2 separate regions of the Homo sapiens genome follow, and region 2 is linked to region 1. Evidence: fine-mapped expression QTL. A gene starts in region 1. The other region holds a variant in brackets. All regions are shown on one strand. Distances are between the middles of the regions.

Evidence for each region. PIP is the estimated chance that this variant, and not a neighbour inherited with it, causes the effect.
Region 2: its variant is fine-mapped to the expression of SFRP2 in esophagus muscle (GTEx, PIP 0.98).

Annotation. Positions count from the first base shown.
Region 1 is chr4:153,784,572-153,792,907 of GRCh38, forward strand. It overlaps SFRP2 (secreted frizzled related protein 2), which reads right to left and starts at 4,512. Exons shown (of 3, transcript NM_003013.3): 1 at 3,763-4,512; 2 at 1,293-1,373. The coding sequence starts at 4,264. RefSeq lists enhancers at 4,656-4,825, 4,740-5,441, 5,442-6,143, 6,405-6,574, 7,548-8,249 and 1 more.
Region 2 is chr4:154,000,528-154,008,863 of GRCh38, forward strand. The region is part of intron 8 of LOC101927947 (a long non-coding RNA gene); the gene reads left to right. Among named protein-coding and RNA genes, the nearest start is that of SFRP2, 220 kb to the left of the region's middle. The variant T/A (reference allele first, on the strand shown) is at 4,561.

The DNA of each region.
Region 1 (8,336 bases):
GACCTGGAGTTGTCAAAGAGCAGGGATTGGATGGTTCCAGAGTTTTAGGGACCTGACCAGGCCTGAGATTTCTGGGATGGCAAGGTAAGGAGAGTGAGAGCTGGAGTGATTTCCCTCAGTCTCGAGGACTATGTTGAATATGTAGAAGTGTTAATATGGGTCTATTAGACTCCATTATTGATTGACAGAGCAGGGAACATATCTGCTTATGAGTAAGTTCAGCCTTGTGCCTGAATAAATACTTTTTTAAAAGGTACCAATAATTCCAACACACCAAAAGGTACCTGCCCTTGGAAAAGGATAAAAGCAAGAATGCCTCTGGGTGAAGTTCCTGGTCATTCCCAACTCTGAATTTAGCATTGATCCTGTGTCTAGCTGGGCTCCTCTTCTGACCTGAGAGCCCTGAAGTCAGCAGATGAGGTGCTGGTAGAGTTCCATGTAGACAAAGCCCCAGCTCTCTTTCCCCTTATAATCCTGTCTTCAGGGGAGTGACTTGCAACTTATGGAACATATCACATGTGTTTTTTATTGTCCCCAAACACCATGTGATCTATCATGTATCTTGCTAAAGTAAATTTCTAAGCTTTTTTTTTCCTTTTTAAAACTATTTTCGAAACTGTGGCAAATGTGTCTAGACTTAGTCATACAAAATTTACAAAAACCTTTTAAAAGGGATTTTAAGATGGTGTTTTAAGGTTGTTAGGTGTTCCATGTTAGGTGTCTTCTCAGTAAGCCACTCTTCTTTTTCAACTTAAGGAACCCCTCCTTGACAAATTATTAATCAGTGCCTTGGATATATTCACTAATGGTAGAACACAGAGGTTTAAAATCATTATGGGTTATAAAGAAAGTAAAAATATTTTTATTTGTGGCCAATTTAAAGCCTTGAATCTGTTTGGCTGGGGCTAATATTTACACTTCCATCCCTGGTGCACATGTTAAGTAATCAAAAGAAAATAGAACTCGGGATTATGCCTGTCGGCAAAAAAAAAAAAAAAAAAAAAGGGATTTAAAATGTGCCACTGGAAATTGATAATCTGAATAATTTTCATTATTTGATTATTGGCTTAACAGAACAATGAGTCTCACCTAACAAGATACAACTCAATGCTAGACAGTTACATAAGGAGGAAACTAGGATAGATCAAGTTAGATGATTTTGGGATACATGAGCTATAATGGTGTTTTACCCAACCTTTATCTAGCAACATCATAATGATTTGCACCTTGAAGTTTTACTGGTAAATAAAACTTCTGAATGTGAAATCTGTTGTTGTTGTTGTATTACTTACCAAAATCATTTTTACAAAGCGTTTCCATTATGTCGTTGTCATCATCATTTTTATTTTTGCAGGCTTCACATACCTTTGGAGCTAGAAATGTGAAAAACAGTCTTTAGTAAGTTTGCTTAAAAGAGAACAGTAGGTGGCGTTTGTAAACAACTCAAAGGGACTTATCCAGACAAAAGTAGCAATTGTCCTATTTAACCTCAGCTTCTGCCTCCTCTATAAAAGCAGGAACACTCAATCCTAAGAAAGTTTTCCCATGCTTCCCAATTTTTTTGGGGGGGAGGGGTGGTGGGAGCAAAATGAGAATGCCTATATGTTGTTGTGTTTAATAAATTATGACTCTCAAAAGGGAGTTGTGGGCAGAGTATACAAGTGTATGTAGTTATAGTTAACTGAGACAGGGTGCAGCTTTTCAGCTCATCCTCCCAACCTCTGGGAAATTCAGTCTGAAAAAGTTATTCCCAAGGCCTTTTGAAGGAGAAAGCACCCAAAGAACCAAAGATACTTGAGGAATTTGGGAAAACTGGTAACTAGAAAATATAGACAAAAGATTGTCTTTCTCAGCCACAGGACACCAGTGTAGTTGGCTCTACTCGGCAGAGCTCTGTATCTCAGGGGGGCCAAGTCTGGACTGGGAGGGGTGACTGGCTAGCGTTCCACATGTGGGCTGTTTCCACCTTGAAAACACATCTCACTAATTACAACAGCCTGCTCTAAGTGGTTCTGTGTCACCTTGTGCCTCTGCCAAGATTGTGCTTGAGTTAGGCAGCATTCATTTCATTGTTATCTGCAAGCTCCCTGGTACAGGTTCTTCTTGCCCTTCTGTGCCTGTTTCAAACTCTCAAAACAAACAAATAAATAAACCTGTTTCTGAAGCTAATCAAAGACGAAGCAAAAATGGTTTAGTGGTCTGATCAAACTTAGGGATTGTATACTAGCACAATTATCAGAAGACCTGCTAAAAGCTCTTCTAAGAGTTTGATTTCTTGGGAGAAGTAAAAAAAAAAAAAAAAGAACAATTATATTGCCCTTCTCTCATTTATAAATGTGTTAATTATGTCTTTAAAATTTAGGTGAAATGAGATTTTCACTAATGTGAAATTTAATGTTCATAGAAAACTATGTGACTTAATAGAAGCGTTATTTATCAAATTAGAAAAATCACAAAGCTGGAATTTTGAAGAACATAAACTTTTATTTTGAAGGAGAAAAGTGGCTTTTTGGAGAAATGTAAGATGCGTAATGTTGCTGCTGATAGTGGGAAGAAATAAAAGCAACATACATAAAACTGCCCTTAAGTCCCCTCACCCAAACAAAATCAAACATTTCCAATTAGGAGCTCTCAGGATGTATATAAAATATTACTAACCTGTATTGGTTGGTCTATGGTACATGTTGGACAAATGTTTGAAAAATGCCAAACATTTGCAATAAATTAGAAATCTAACCAATAAGATGATTGCAAACTCATGGTCCCTGCCAGGAAAGATTGCTAAAGAACTTTGCATTTGCTTTAACTAATGATGTCTGTAGGAAAACTACTAGAGATTGAAAGGGAGAGGCTGCTGAAGCCCTGAAAGGGATTAGGAAGCTCCCTTTTCCAACCCAGGGGACCCAAATCAGCTCAGAGGCATTGTATATGTTTTCCTTTCAGAAAAAATATTGAGAGCCCATGAGGTTTTCATTGCTTTGATGGTTTTTGCACAGGAACTCTCCCTCCGTTTTCTAAAAACTTGGGAATCTCTTTTGCATGATTTTCTCCAGCTAATCAAAACCACTCCTAAGTTAAAAACTGATAGCAATAGAAAAGTGATTTCCAGAGATTCCCTTTATGCCCTCTTCCTCAAGTATCTGAGCAGTTACAACCAATGTTCAATTTTCCACACACTCCGTGCCAGTCCCGGTTTTATTTCCAAAATCTAAATTGACAAAGGACAAAAAGACCCTTAAAAGGTTATCTACTTGTGCATCCTGGTTTTCCTTTCTGTACAGGAAATGTTCCTGTGACTAGAATCCTGCCCAGTGGTAGGAAGGTGCAGAATGAGGCTGAGCGAGGGGCCTCTGGCCAGAATGCTCACCACAAACTCCTCCACCAAACACCACTTCCAACGCTCTGCGCAGCTCCAGTGCTAGCATCTTTAACAATAATCGTGTATCTATTTTTTTTTAAACCGCCGTTCAGTTCTTCGTTTTTTTAGTTTTGTTGTTTTTGTTTGTTTGTTTTATTTTTAAACTGCCCTTAAGTATAGCTGGTACAACTCGGGAGGAGAATGCGCGAGACTTGGGCGGCGTGGGAGGGGTGCCTCAAATTTGATACAGGCTTGTTGTGATGACAGACCAGGTCAGGCAGAACTTCTGCCCTTCCCGCTACTGGCACCCCAAGCAGGGATGCACTGGGATGCGTGGCAGGGGCGGGATCTCCTGGGAGCGTCTCAGCCCAGCAGGGAGTGGGGAAGCAAGAGGGAAGGCTTACCTTCCTCGGTGGCTGGCAGGAGGTGGTCGCTGCTAGCGAGGGGGATGCAAAGGTCGTTGTCCTGGGGGAAACGGTCGCACTCAAGCATGTCGGGCCAGGGGAAGCCGAAGGCGGACATGACCGGGGCGCAGCGGTCCTTCACCTGCACGCAGAGCGAGTGGCATGGCTGGATGGTCTCGTCTAGGTCATCGAGGCAGACGGGGGCGAAGAGCGAGCACAGGAACTTCTTGGTGTCCGGGTGGCACTGCTTCATGACCAGCGGGATCCAAGCGCCGGCCTGCTCCAGCACCTCCTTCATGGTCTCGTGGCCCAGCAGGTTGGGCAGCCGCATGTTCTGGTATTCGATGCCGTGGCACAGCTGCAGGTTGGCAGGGATGGGCTTGCAATTGCTGCGCTTGTAGGAGAAGTCGGGCTGGCCAAAGAGGAAGAGCCCGCGCGCCGAGCCCAGGCAGCAGTGCGAGGCGAGGAAGAGCAGCAGCAGCGAGCCAGGGCCCTGCAGCATCGTGGGCGCGCGACCCCGAGGGGGCAGAGGGAGCGGAGCCGGGGAAGGGCGAGGCGGCCGGAGTTCGAGCTTGTCCCGGGCCCGCTCTCTTCGCTGGGTGCGACTCGGGGCCCCGAAAAGCTGGCAGCCGGCGGCTGGGGCGCGGAGAAGCGGGACACCGGGAGGACAGCGCGGGCGAGGCGCTGCAAGCCCGCGCGCAGCTCCGGGGGGCTCCGACCCGGGGGAGCAGAATGAGCCGTTGCTGGGGCACAGCCAGAGTTTTCTTGGCCTTTTTTATGCAAATCTGGAGGGTGGGGGGAGCAAGGGAGGAGCCAATGAAGGGTAATCCGAGGAGGGCTGGTCACTACTTTCTGGGTCTGGTTTTGCGTTGAGAATGCCCCTCACGCGCTTGCTGGAAGGGAATTCTGGCTGCGCCCCCTCCCCTAGATGCCGCCGCTCGCCCGCCCTAGGATTTCTTTAAACAACAAACAGAGAAGCCTGGCCGCTGCGCCCCCACAGTGAGCGAGCAGGGCGCGGGCTGCGGGAGTGGGGGGCACGCAGGGCACCCCGCGAGCGGCCTCGCGACCAGGTACTGGCGGGAACGCGCCTAGCCCCGCGTGCCGCCGGGGCCCGGGCTTGTTTTGCCCCAGTCCGAAGTTTCTGCTGGGTTGCCAGGCATGAGTGGGAGAGGGTGTGTGTGTGTGTGTGTGTGTGTGTGTGTGTGTGTGTGTGTGTGTTGGGGGGCTGCGTCCCTGGTAGCCGCGTGTGCCCTGTGATGGAGCCCGGGACCTGCCCGCCCGAGGCCGCCTCGGCGAACTTCGTTTTCCCTCGAATCTCCAGCCACCGTTCAGCAGCCTGTCGGTGTGCTCCCCAATGCCGTAAAAAAATCAGAATTATAAATATATTCGTATGAGCAGAACTTTACATGGAAAACGAAATACTAATAAAATGGGCTTGTTATTCTGTTGGAGTGAGTGCCTAGGAAGGGTTTCGTCGTTGTAGAAACGCCCCTACAAGAGTCTCACCAGTCACACAGGACTGCCCACCATTTCCCCGTTTTGGAGAGATTTTTCCTTCTTAAATGAATGGCATGACTCAATACTCGAAGGCATCACGGGCTCTAACACACAGCCGCCCTTGCAGCTGTGCGCTCTGGAAAGCTGGAGTATGGGCCCCCAGGGCACTGTTTGTAAAGACTGGTGGCCGGCACAAAAGACGGGCACAAAAGATGGGCAGGCTGGGAGGGAGCGAGGTAGAGGAAGGAGTCCTGCCTAGAGATCCACGAGGGCTAGAATTAGCTCATTCATCCCCTACGTACCAGGGGGCACCATGCTGGGCGCTGGATGTGCAGAAATGAACAAACAGGCCGGCCTCTGCTCTCGTGGAGCCTGGGATCTAGTGTCTCTGACTGCAAACAGTAAGTTCTGGGTTGGGGGGTGGGCTCCTTTTGCCTAATTGTCCCTAGTCTCCCTATGGGGACAGGAGGCCTTCGCTCTCCTCAGCCGCTGTCTCCGGGTGGCTGTGAAGATCCAAAGAGATAATCCCCGGAGGGCGAAGTTCTTTCATATGTAAGGTGGGCGCATTGTTATTACTTCCCGACCACTTAAGAGTCATTCACAGGCTCAGACCCCGGCTTCCTAATTTCCCTCCTTCCGGAAGATGCGTTGGCCTTGGCGGCTCCCAGGCCCAAGTTATCAGGCACACTTTGCGGTCCAGCTGCTTAGAGGAGCCGGGTAATGAATGAATGGGTGGCAAAAGCCCACTCAGTGTTATCTGCTGACCGTAAACACGCCAGGAAAATCGTCATCTGGAGAGAATGCACATTCTGAACTCCAAGAATCTGCGTCCCTAAGAGCCCAGCTTCCGGGTGCTCTGCTGGGGAAGGGCCCGGGGTAGCTGCAAAAGGCCTCTCTTTCCCCAAATTGGTTCAGGGCCTTTTCGTCTCTAACGAAAGCACCAAGAGGCCTAAAAGCCCCCTTCCCAACATAAACTACTTTGCAATGAAACCACAAAGGAAACAGAAGCACACCAAAAGAAAGAGCTAATAAAGAGCGTGAGCTCTGAGAGATGCTACGACTTGGGCCTGGGAGTGGGATAAGGGCCCTCTCGCTTTCACGCCCCCCCAACCCCCCGCCGGCCCCGGCCAACCCCTAAATCCCCAACGCCCTCCGCTGGGGTCGCCTCCTCCCCGCAGAGCCCCTTGTTGGGAGTTCAAGGAGCCCGAAGCTGGTCTGGCTGGTTTGAGCCCCGCGCTGCCGCACGCCCGGAAGTGGCTGGCGGCCCCCGCGCTCCGCGCGCCGGCTGCATTGTTTTGGGAGCCCTCGCTGCCCGGCTTGCCGCCAGGAGGTGCTGGGAGTCGCGCCTGAGTCTCCATCCCTGCCGTGCGCAGTGTCCACCTCTGGCCAGCTTGTTTGCCCGGCCCGCGGCGTCCCCTGCGGCCCATCGCTGCTCCTCCCGGAACCCACGCCACTTAGTCTGGTCCCGACCCTGCACTCGCTGCTGCTGCCTTTCCCACCTCAAGTCGCTCTCCCCACTCCCTTCTGCTTTTGGGCTAAGACCGGTCCAATTGATCACTGGGGAACAGGGCAATAACCTCCCGCGGAGGCTGGGACGCGGGCACGGAGCTCTGCCCATATGAGCAGCGCAGGGATGGGACACTGGGTGCCCATCCCAGCGCGCCTCCCCAGACTGGTCCCTGGGATGCTCACACGTGGCGCGGCACCGCGGCGGCGCCTTCACGAACCCAGACTCTTCTCTGCTGCCAGTTGACCTCAGGTCCACAGGTCTCCTTCGATCCTTGCAATTGATCAAAACCCACCAAAGGCTTTTATTTGTACCAATGGACCGTCCATGTTTACCCCCTCCCTGCCCATTTAAGGCACGGAAAATCTATTCACCCAAGCCCAGGGTAAGTGATGGTGGATGCCCACTCCACCGGGCATCTTGCTTAAAGGGGGCTGCCCATAGGTCCCTGGAGAGGGGCTTGGTCCAGAACACACACAGAATGAACATCATCCCACCCCAATGCTGCAGGTCTACGGAAGAGCCTCGACCTCCCGTATCCTGGGTTTGGCTCTGCTTCTCTGCTTGAGTGTTTCCTGTGCTCAGGGCACTGAAGAAGCTTGAGGCACAAAGAAAGCCCCCAGCAATCTCTCCAGAACAATTTGGCTTCTTGTTTAAACCTGTGCTGGCTACAAGAGTTTCTGGACAGGCAAGACCTTCACTCTCACGTTCAGATTCTGTCCTGTCAGGGAGTCCGCTTGGCCTCCGCGAAGAGCTGGGAAAAGCGAGCCTCCCACCCCCACTCTCAAGTAGTAAAATCAAAGCGGATGGACCCTTATTTCTGAGGAGTGAAAGCGAGAAGAACGATGCGTGTAAAATGCTAGTTCCTTAATTCACACAATCCAGCACCGGCTCCCGGATGATCATTTTGCACACAAGCAGTCACTGGGAAACTGAGGCATGGAGAGGTTAAGTAACGAACCGGGCCACACCGTAAGTGGTACAGCTGCTGACGTTACATGTGCCTCGGTGAGGTGAAGTGACTACCGGGCTAGCCTTGGGGACCTGTCGCGACTTGTCGGGTGTCTCCAACCGCGTTGCCGCCTGGCTTTCAGCCGTGCGCTGGCCAGCCGGGCGGGTGACGTCACCTCTCCCCGGGTCCGTGCACCCAGGCCTTCCCTGCTCCGGGTGAGTATTTTTTCATGGGATTCAGCCATCTGGGGGCGCCATTTCCCAAAACAGAGATTGTCCCTTTGAGGTTGCAAGTCAGGTTCCTTTACGCTGAGATCCCTTACATTTTTACTTTTAGGAAGGTTTTTTCGAGGGGTGGGGGGATGACCTCATTCCTTCGCCTTTGGCCCTCCCTCTACCCGGCCCCACAACGAGGACGCCCCTGCAGCTGGCTGGGCCGCTTCCTCTTGCCACGCGGGGGGACCTGTGCCCGCGGCCGTGCACCTCCGTGTACGCTTCTGCTCCTCGGACCCCATCGGTTCAGACGCGGATTTCCGAGAACGAGACCAGAGTCTGCGTCTGGAGAGCCTTTGCCCCTCATCTTAGGAAGAGTCTAGTCTGAGAACAAACAGTTTGCCAA
Region 2 (8,336 bases), 220 kb after region 1:
CCAGAACAAAAATCTAGCGTACTTGAGATTAAAAAGCTTGCTCTAAAATGAATTTTAATTTCTTTTATCTTCTACTCTTCCTTCTCATCCCTCCTACCTTCCCATCCCTTCTTTTCCTCTTTCTGTTTCCTCTCTTCTTTCTCCTTCTTATTTCCAGGAAAGGAAGGAATGTTGGGGGTCAGGAATCAGATAGTTGTGAAAGTTCTGCTCTGGTGCTGTTACTATGGTTTGAATGTATTGGAAACTTAATCCCCAAATTCATATATTGATTGGACATTGGGCCTTCTGGAGGAAATTAGGTTTAGATAAGATCATCAGGGTGGGGGGGGGGGCAAAATGGGATGGGTGGCTTTATAAGAAGAAAAAGAAAGACTCTAGCTGACCTGCACATTCTTGCTCTCACCACGTGATGCCCTCCACTGTGTTATGATGCAGTGAGAAGTCCCTCACTGGATGTCAGCCTTAAACTTCCCAGCCTCCAGAACCAGAAGAAATAATTCTTTATAAATCACCCAATCTAAGGTATTCTGTCATAGGAACGGACAACAGACTGAGATGGCTGTTATTTTAAGAAATAAAGCTGGCATATATTCCCCTCACTCAAAGTACTTCTAAAATGCAGATGTCCACCACCAAAGGGCATTGCATGTAGGTGCATATGCACAAACATAGACATCACCATTGCTAAATAGCAGGTACCATGGAGAACAGAGCAATGAACCATTTCCTCATATGGAAAGAAAATACCTAATAAAACCCAAGCAAAGAGTCCAAAATAGCTCCACTTTATTTTTGAGCACTCTTATGTAGAACCATTTAGCCAGGGCCAGGAATAATTGGTGCCAGGTGCCTTGTAGAGATGCCAGGTTCATGGATTTCTCACTCTCTTTATGGGAGGATGACTTAATAACACATCTTTGTCTGCTGAATGTTTGAATCTTATTTCTGAGATTATACCCAAAGATGGCAGCCCTCCTCTGCATGAGTAAATCACATTGAAAATAGGAAAAAGAGTCCAGGCAATCAATGCCTGTCTCAGCTGAAACATAATTATAAGTCCACTGTGCTTAGAGGTAATACTTTATTAAAAAGAATATCAGGACTGGGTGCAGTGACTCATGCCTGTAATCCCAACACTTTGGGAAGCCGATGCGGGCAGATCACAAGGTCAGGAGTTCGAGACCAGCCTGGCCAATGTAGTGAAACCCTGTCTCTACTAAAAATACAAAAAATTAGCTGGGCGTGGTGGTGGGTGCCTGTAATTCCAGCTACTTGGGAGGCTGAGGCAGGAGAATCGCTTGAACCTGGGAAGCAGAGGTGGCAGTGAGCCAAGATTGTGCCATTGCACTCCAGCCTGGCAACAGTGCGAGACTCCATCTCAAAAAAAAAAAAAAAAAACAAAAAAAAAAACTCTCTCTCTTTATATATATATGTATATATACATATATATATATACATATATATATGTATATATATATGTATATATATATATATATATATGTATATATATCAGAGCTACATTTTTGGTTTGGTGGCTAAGTCATAATTGTAGAAATCTATTTTCCAATAAATCCTTCCCTTGAACCTAAATATATAAAAGAGATAATGTGTGGAGCTGCTCTGGTTATATTGGGGGTTGGGGGTCCAAGGCATTGCCCATTTAGCTTCTTCCTTGGCTCCCACTTAAGCCACTACTCACCCTCCCCATAAGCTCCCCATGGAGCTCCTCTAACAGAGCGTGAAGAGTACTGACTGTTATGCTGGTTATTAGTGAATACATAGTACCCATTACTACACAGGGGGAAACTGAGGCCTGGAAAATGAAGTGTGATGCCAAAGTGTTGGAGCTGGTGCTGCTGCTGGGACCTGCCACCTCCTGTAGAGCACTAAGTGTCAGCGAGCACTAAGTATCATACTCTGTGACCCTTAGCAAGGCAGCCCCTCTTGGGACAGCACATGCACCCTGCTCCCCAACAGGAAGCGAACATTTAAACTAGTTTGACCTTGAATGTAAAGTCATGGAGTGAAATAGTCTACTTAGCAGAGCCCTTCAGGGTGTTCTCCTTTTCCTGTCAATTTGGTATTTTAGTTTTGGAAAACAAAAATATTCTGTAAGAGGAGCTCTGATTTGGTTCACAAGCCTGTGCTAGTAATAGGAGAACTTGGATAGCCAGGCATCCTACTGTCTTGCTCCTCCACACCCCTGCTTCCTCACCTTTGCCAGGTGCCACCTGGCCTGGTGGAATGGTGGGCAAGTACTGCAAGAACATGCTCTAAGCCACGGGGTGGTGCAGCCTGCCCGCCCAGGCCCCTTGGCAGGAAGCTGGCAAACAGGCATCTCATCTCAGAGACAGGACAGTGAAGTGGACAGACTCCTCTGTGTGTGTGTGTGTGTGTGTGTGTGTGTGTGTGTGTGTGTGTGTGTGCGCGCGCGCGCGCGCGCGCACTTAAATAGCATGATTTTCCTCTCTAATTAAAAAAATGAAATTTACAAGGAAAATTTATACCATATAATAAGGATAAAGAGAACGTCACTATATAGAGAAGCATTTTTTTTTTTTTGAAACGGAGTCTCGCTTTGTCGCCCAGGCTGGAGTGCAGTGGTGTGATCTCGGCTCACTGCAACCTCCGCCTCCCAGGTTCATGCCGTTCTCCTGCCTCAGCCTCCTGAGTAGCTGGGACTACAGGTGCCTGCCACCATGCCTGGCTAATTTTTTGTATTTTTAGTAGAGATGGGGTTTCACCATGTTAGCCAGGATGGTCTCGATCCCCTGACCTTGTGATCTGCCCGCCTCAGCCTCCCAAAGTGTTGGGATTACAGGCAAGAAGCATTTTAAAATACATATCCTTAGATTCTTTCTTTCCTTCCCTCCCTCCTGTCTTTATTTTCTCTCTTCCTACTTTTTTTTCACTATTTCATTTTGCCAAAATGAGATCATACTGCTTGTGATCCCCTTTTATTTACTTCATGTATTGTGAACACATTTTTTGTGATAAATACATAATAATGTGTACTTATTATTGGTTTAGAAGTATTCCTTTGTGCTGTAACTCATTCAAGTACATTTCTACTTTTTAACCTTTGTTTTTTCTGCCTTTATAAATAACATTTTTGTTACTAGTTTGAGTCCTAAATCATTGCATGTTTCTCTAGCAGGAATTCCTAGAGGTGGAATTGGTGGATATATAAGAAGAACTGTAGCGATTGTGAATAACCAGAACTATGGAACTGACTCTTCTGTCCTTAAACATTTGCTAATTACCGCACCCGACCAGCCCAATCCAGGCAGGCGGTTGATGGCAGCTCTTGGCAATCGATGCCCTCTCCATTTATCAAAGAGATAAATGGAATCATCAAATAGGAAATTCATTATTTTAAAGAGTTCATCTAAAATGGGGTCAGAGAGAGAATGTGACAAAGTCGAAAAAGCAGGCCCCTCAGAGGAGAAGGGGAAGGGGCAGGGGTGAAATGGAAATTCTCCAATTCCTCAGGCTTCCCTTTGTCCTTCCCTTGAAATCTTGTGCATCCGCCCTGACTCCAGGCCTCCTCAGCAGATGGTGCCAGGCAGCACCTTCCATTCCCTGCCCAGGGAGGTGACAAAGTTCCGGCTAGCGTGACCACAGGATGGATCTCCATTACTTCTTAGCTGATCCATGTTAAACTCAAGATGACTGTGGTCAGACTTAGTTTTCCACCGAGATTTAATTAACAAATTTTCTGGGCTGTGTTCCCTGGGGCATATTTAGAGTCATGCTCAATGTCTAACTTTCTGGGGAGTTTTCAGCTCGATGAACTTCTTTCTACTTGGACATAGCACATAGCCACAGAAATGTGTGGGGAGACTAGTGCATGAGAAGAAGCCAGCATATAACTCTGTGAATAGAAGCTCTTTCTATGTACAGGTATTTGGGGAGCAAAGGCCTCCTTTCTGCTCCTCGAGGCGGGGGGTGTGACTGGTTTCGAGAGGTGGGCTCTGTCGGTGTTGGTAGACAGGCCACCTTAACCTCCCTCAAAGGGGCAGTGGAGCAGGCTAATGAGTATCCTCTGCGAGCTTGAGAGGTGCACATGCATTCACTTAAAGCAAGGTGGGCCCCTGCCAATTTGTCCAGATTCACTGCCAGTTGGCAGTAAGATTGAATCCTGAGGAGAGACAGAGAGAGTGGAAGGCCTGGCCTGGGGTTCTGGCCTGACCAGCGAGCAGTAGCTTTCATGTATGGGGAGGCCACGTTTCAGCATAGATGGGCCGAGATGGGCCCAGTCTCTAGCAATTACCTTCATGGTTTTCTGCCAGAGGCTATTTTTTTCCAAGGGAAAACTTCCCATTTGTTTTTTGTATTTTTAAAGTGTGTGTGTGCGTGTTTGCTCTTTGTGCTAAGGGTACATGTTCAGCAGAAGGAATTGGCAGGAGCACACGCTCCCTCTCTCTCTCACTTTGCATGCTTGACCCTGAGACCTTGTGTTCTCCTGAAGCCTCTGCCACGCAATCTCTTCCATCTTCTTCCTGTCTGATGATTTCCCCTGGACTCTCCCATGGGCATTTTTATGTCAATAGATTGGAA[T/A]GTTTCTCTCCTCACTGGGAAAAGCTCCTTTGGTCTCAGTGAACTCAGAGGTGGAGAAAGTCATAAGAATCAGGGAGCCTGCCCCAAATTGCCTCCTATGATAACTTTCCACAAAGACTGGAGGGGAGGCTTCAAACATCTTCCTGCAGTGTCCAGCAAGACAGCGAGGCAGACTCCCTTTCTCCTGCCAAAGCCACGTGGAGCCAGACAGAACCACAAGCATACCTGTGGTGCTTGGAGGCCCAAGTAGAAACTTGAATGCTCACGGCTGCATTGGCAGCTTCTACTTGCCTGCCTGGATCACCGTTCCTCATGAGAACTTGGAAAAGCAGGACTATCATTCTTGCTTGACAGACGAAGAAACCAAGCCTCAGGTAGGTAGTTAGTTTCCCAAAGTAACATATTGTAGTGGATGGCAGGGTGGATGTGACAGTCAGCTTTGTTTGACTTTCAACTGAGTGGCATTATAAGGTTGCACTGGTCACATGGGAGACCTGACCATCCTGGGGACCCTGAAACACCTAGGCCTAGCCAATCATTAAGGCAGTTCATACCCAAAGCAGGATAGTTGGTGATCTGATTTTAGGTGGCACCAGGAAACTCCAACACTACCCTTGTGAGGTTCCATAATTTAGTGTCATTCTTTGGTTAATGGATTGTCTGCAATTACAATGAAAATATCTTTGTGTCTATAATCATTTAAGCAGTCATTTCCATCTAAGTGTGAATTAATTTATTGTCTTATTCAATGTAACAGCTAGCTGAGGCTTGATTTTATTTTCCTTCATGCATTTATTCTTTCAATTGGTATGCATTTAATGACCATCTGAGGACAAGATACTATGTGAGTTCAAGGAGGAGTAAGACATGCACTCTGCCCTAAATGAACTTACAGGTTAAAAGGGAACTGAAGTCACCATAAAGCAGCATACAGTAAGTGACATAAGAACAGCACAAATAGAAAAAAATCAATTGAGGGCAGGAACTGAGGTGTTTAGGGAGCACCCACTGGGGGAACCAACATGTGGGATGAGTCTTTGTGAAGGATGGTCATGATTTCAACTAGAACCTGTAGTGTTACAGAAGGCAGGCAGAGAAGGGAGAGGAAGGCATTGCCGGAGGGAAGGCAAGGAGCAAAGACATGGGGTAAGAAACTGACATGTTTGTTTGGGGCATTCACATGGTTCCCTTTAACTTAAGTATAGGGTATGTGGAGGGGAGTAACAAGAGATAAAGATAAAAGGTGTTTTGAGGCCTATATTTAGAAGACTGTCAGTGCCAGGCTAAGGAGGATGGTGTCTTACCTGGTCGGCAGTGGGAGCCTTTGAAAGTGTGTGAACAGTAAAGCGCCAGGACTCCAACTGTGTGCTAGGAATCATGGGTCAGAGGTTCCTGGAGAATGTTTATTTCAAGCTGAAATAATCAAGGCCTGAGCTTAAATAATAGTGGTGAGAACTGCCAGGAGGGAATGGTGCAGAAGATAGCCCGATATTGTGATATAATACAAAAATATATCCTTGTCTTCAGCCCTGGCTCTAGTTCCTTACATGGAGCTCTTAAAACCTTTGGAATTCCCTGAACGATGGGATGAGAGGAGTGTGTTATTTTATTCGTAAGCCCCTTTCAACCACACATGAGTGGATGCTAGTGAGATGGCTGGGGGTTGGGGGACTCTAGATAGCTTCTGGCTGGGGGCTGGTTCCCAGGAAGACCAAGACAGGATAAAAGAGTTGGAACTTTCAACCTCACTTCCACCCCTCAACCTCTGAAGAAAGAAGAGGAGATACAGACTGAGTCAATTGCCAATGGCCAATGATTTAATCAGTTATGCCTATGTAATGAAACCTCCATAAAATCCCCAAACAATGGGATTTGAAGGGCTTCTTGGTCAGCAAACACATCAACGTGTGAAGAGGGCACAGAAGCTCCATGTCCTCACCCCCATCGCCGGCCCTATGCATCTCTTCCATTTGGTTTTTCCTGAGTTGTAGCTTTTATAATACATAAGCAATGGGAAGTAAACTGGTTTTCTGAGTTCTGTGAGCTGTTCTAGCAAACCATTGAAACTGAGGAAGGGGTTGTGGGAACCTCTGACTTTATGACTGTTTTATCAGAAGTATGGGTGGCTGGGACTTGTGATTGGTGTCTGAAGTGGGACAGTCTTGTGGGACTGAGGCCGTAACCTGTGGGGTCTGAATTAACTCTGGGTACCTAGTGTCAGAATGGAATTTAATCATTGGATACCCAGTTGGTGTCTGGAAAGCTGGAGAACTGGTTGTGGGTGTGGAAAAAAACTTACATATTTTGGTGTCAGGGTGTTGTGAGTAGAAACAGATCATGTCAACAGATGGGCTCTTTTTTTAAAAAAAATTTTTTTACATTTCTTTTTTTCCTTCTACATTTTTTCTCTTTAAGCTTTATTTTTGATACACAATAATTGTATATATTTATGGGGTACAGTGTGATGTTTTGTTACATGTATGCAATGTGCAATGATCAAATCAGCACAATTGGGATATCCATCACTTCAAATATTTATTATTTCTTTTGGTGAGAACATTCCAAATCTTCTTTTCTAGCTATGTAAAAATATACAGTAAATTACTGTGAACTATAGTCACCTTATTATGCTACTGAACACTAGATTATATTCCTTCTATAATATCTAAGTGTGTTTTCGTTCCCACTCCCCCTCCTCACTACCCTCTGAGCCTCTAATAACTATCATTCTATTTGCTATCTCCATGTGATTCATTTATTTAGACTCCATATATAAGTGAGAACATGTGACATTTGTCTTTCTGTGCTTGGCTTATTTTACTTAACACAATGTCCTCCAGTTCCATCCATGTTGTTGTGGATGGCAGGATTTTGTCCTTTTTTACAGCTAAATAGTATTCCATTGTGTATATATATGAGATTTTCTTTATGCATTCATCCTTTGATGGATACTTCAGTTGATTCCATATCTTGGCTATTGTGAAGAGTGCTGTGGTAAACGTGGGAGTGCAGATATTTCTTCAAAATATTTGACTTCCTTTCCTTTGGCTACATACACAGTAGTGGATTGCTGGATCATATAGTAGTTTATATTCTTAATTTTTTGAGGGAACACTATACTATTTTCTGTAATGACTGTATTAATTTACATTTCCACCAACAGTGTATAAGAATTCTCCTTTCCCCACGTCCTCACCATCATTGGTCTTTTTTTTTGTCTTTTTGATAATAGTCATTTTAACTGGAGTGAGATGATAGCAGATGGGCTCTTGTTTAAGAGTAGTTGTGGTATATAAGGGAGAGGGAGATGTTAAAGATGGCCAAGTGTCAAGTCTTGGTAAGTTGAAGGTGTGGAAGATTAAGAGGAAGCCCAGGAGAAAGAACTGCTGAGGGTGGGAATAGGAGGTGTGCCAATTTAGACATGTTGACTGGAGGTAGCCGCTGGCCTGCAGGCACAGCAGGGCCTCATATGTGGGGAGAGCGTTCAGTGAGCATGAGAGGGCGCTGACGGAAGAATCAAGGAGAGACCCATGGTCACAGGGAGGCAAAGGGATTCCAAATCTGTCTCATTCAAAAACATTTTCCTGTGTGAGGCCACTATTCTAAATCCTGAGATTCATACGAGCAAGGACAAGTCACTCTTCTCATGGAGCTTTCCTTCTTATACAGCAATTGGTAGGACCCAAGTCTTCTGCAGAGCCCTAAAGTGTAGCTTTCCTTCACTAGTTGTCATTCTCAATGTGGAAACATTCAGCCTCCACTCCATCACAACCTGA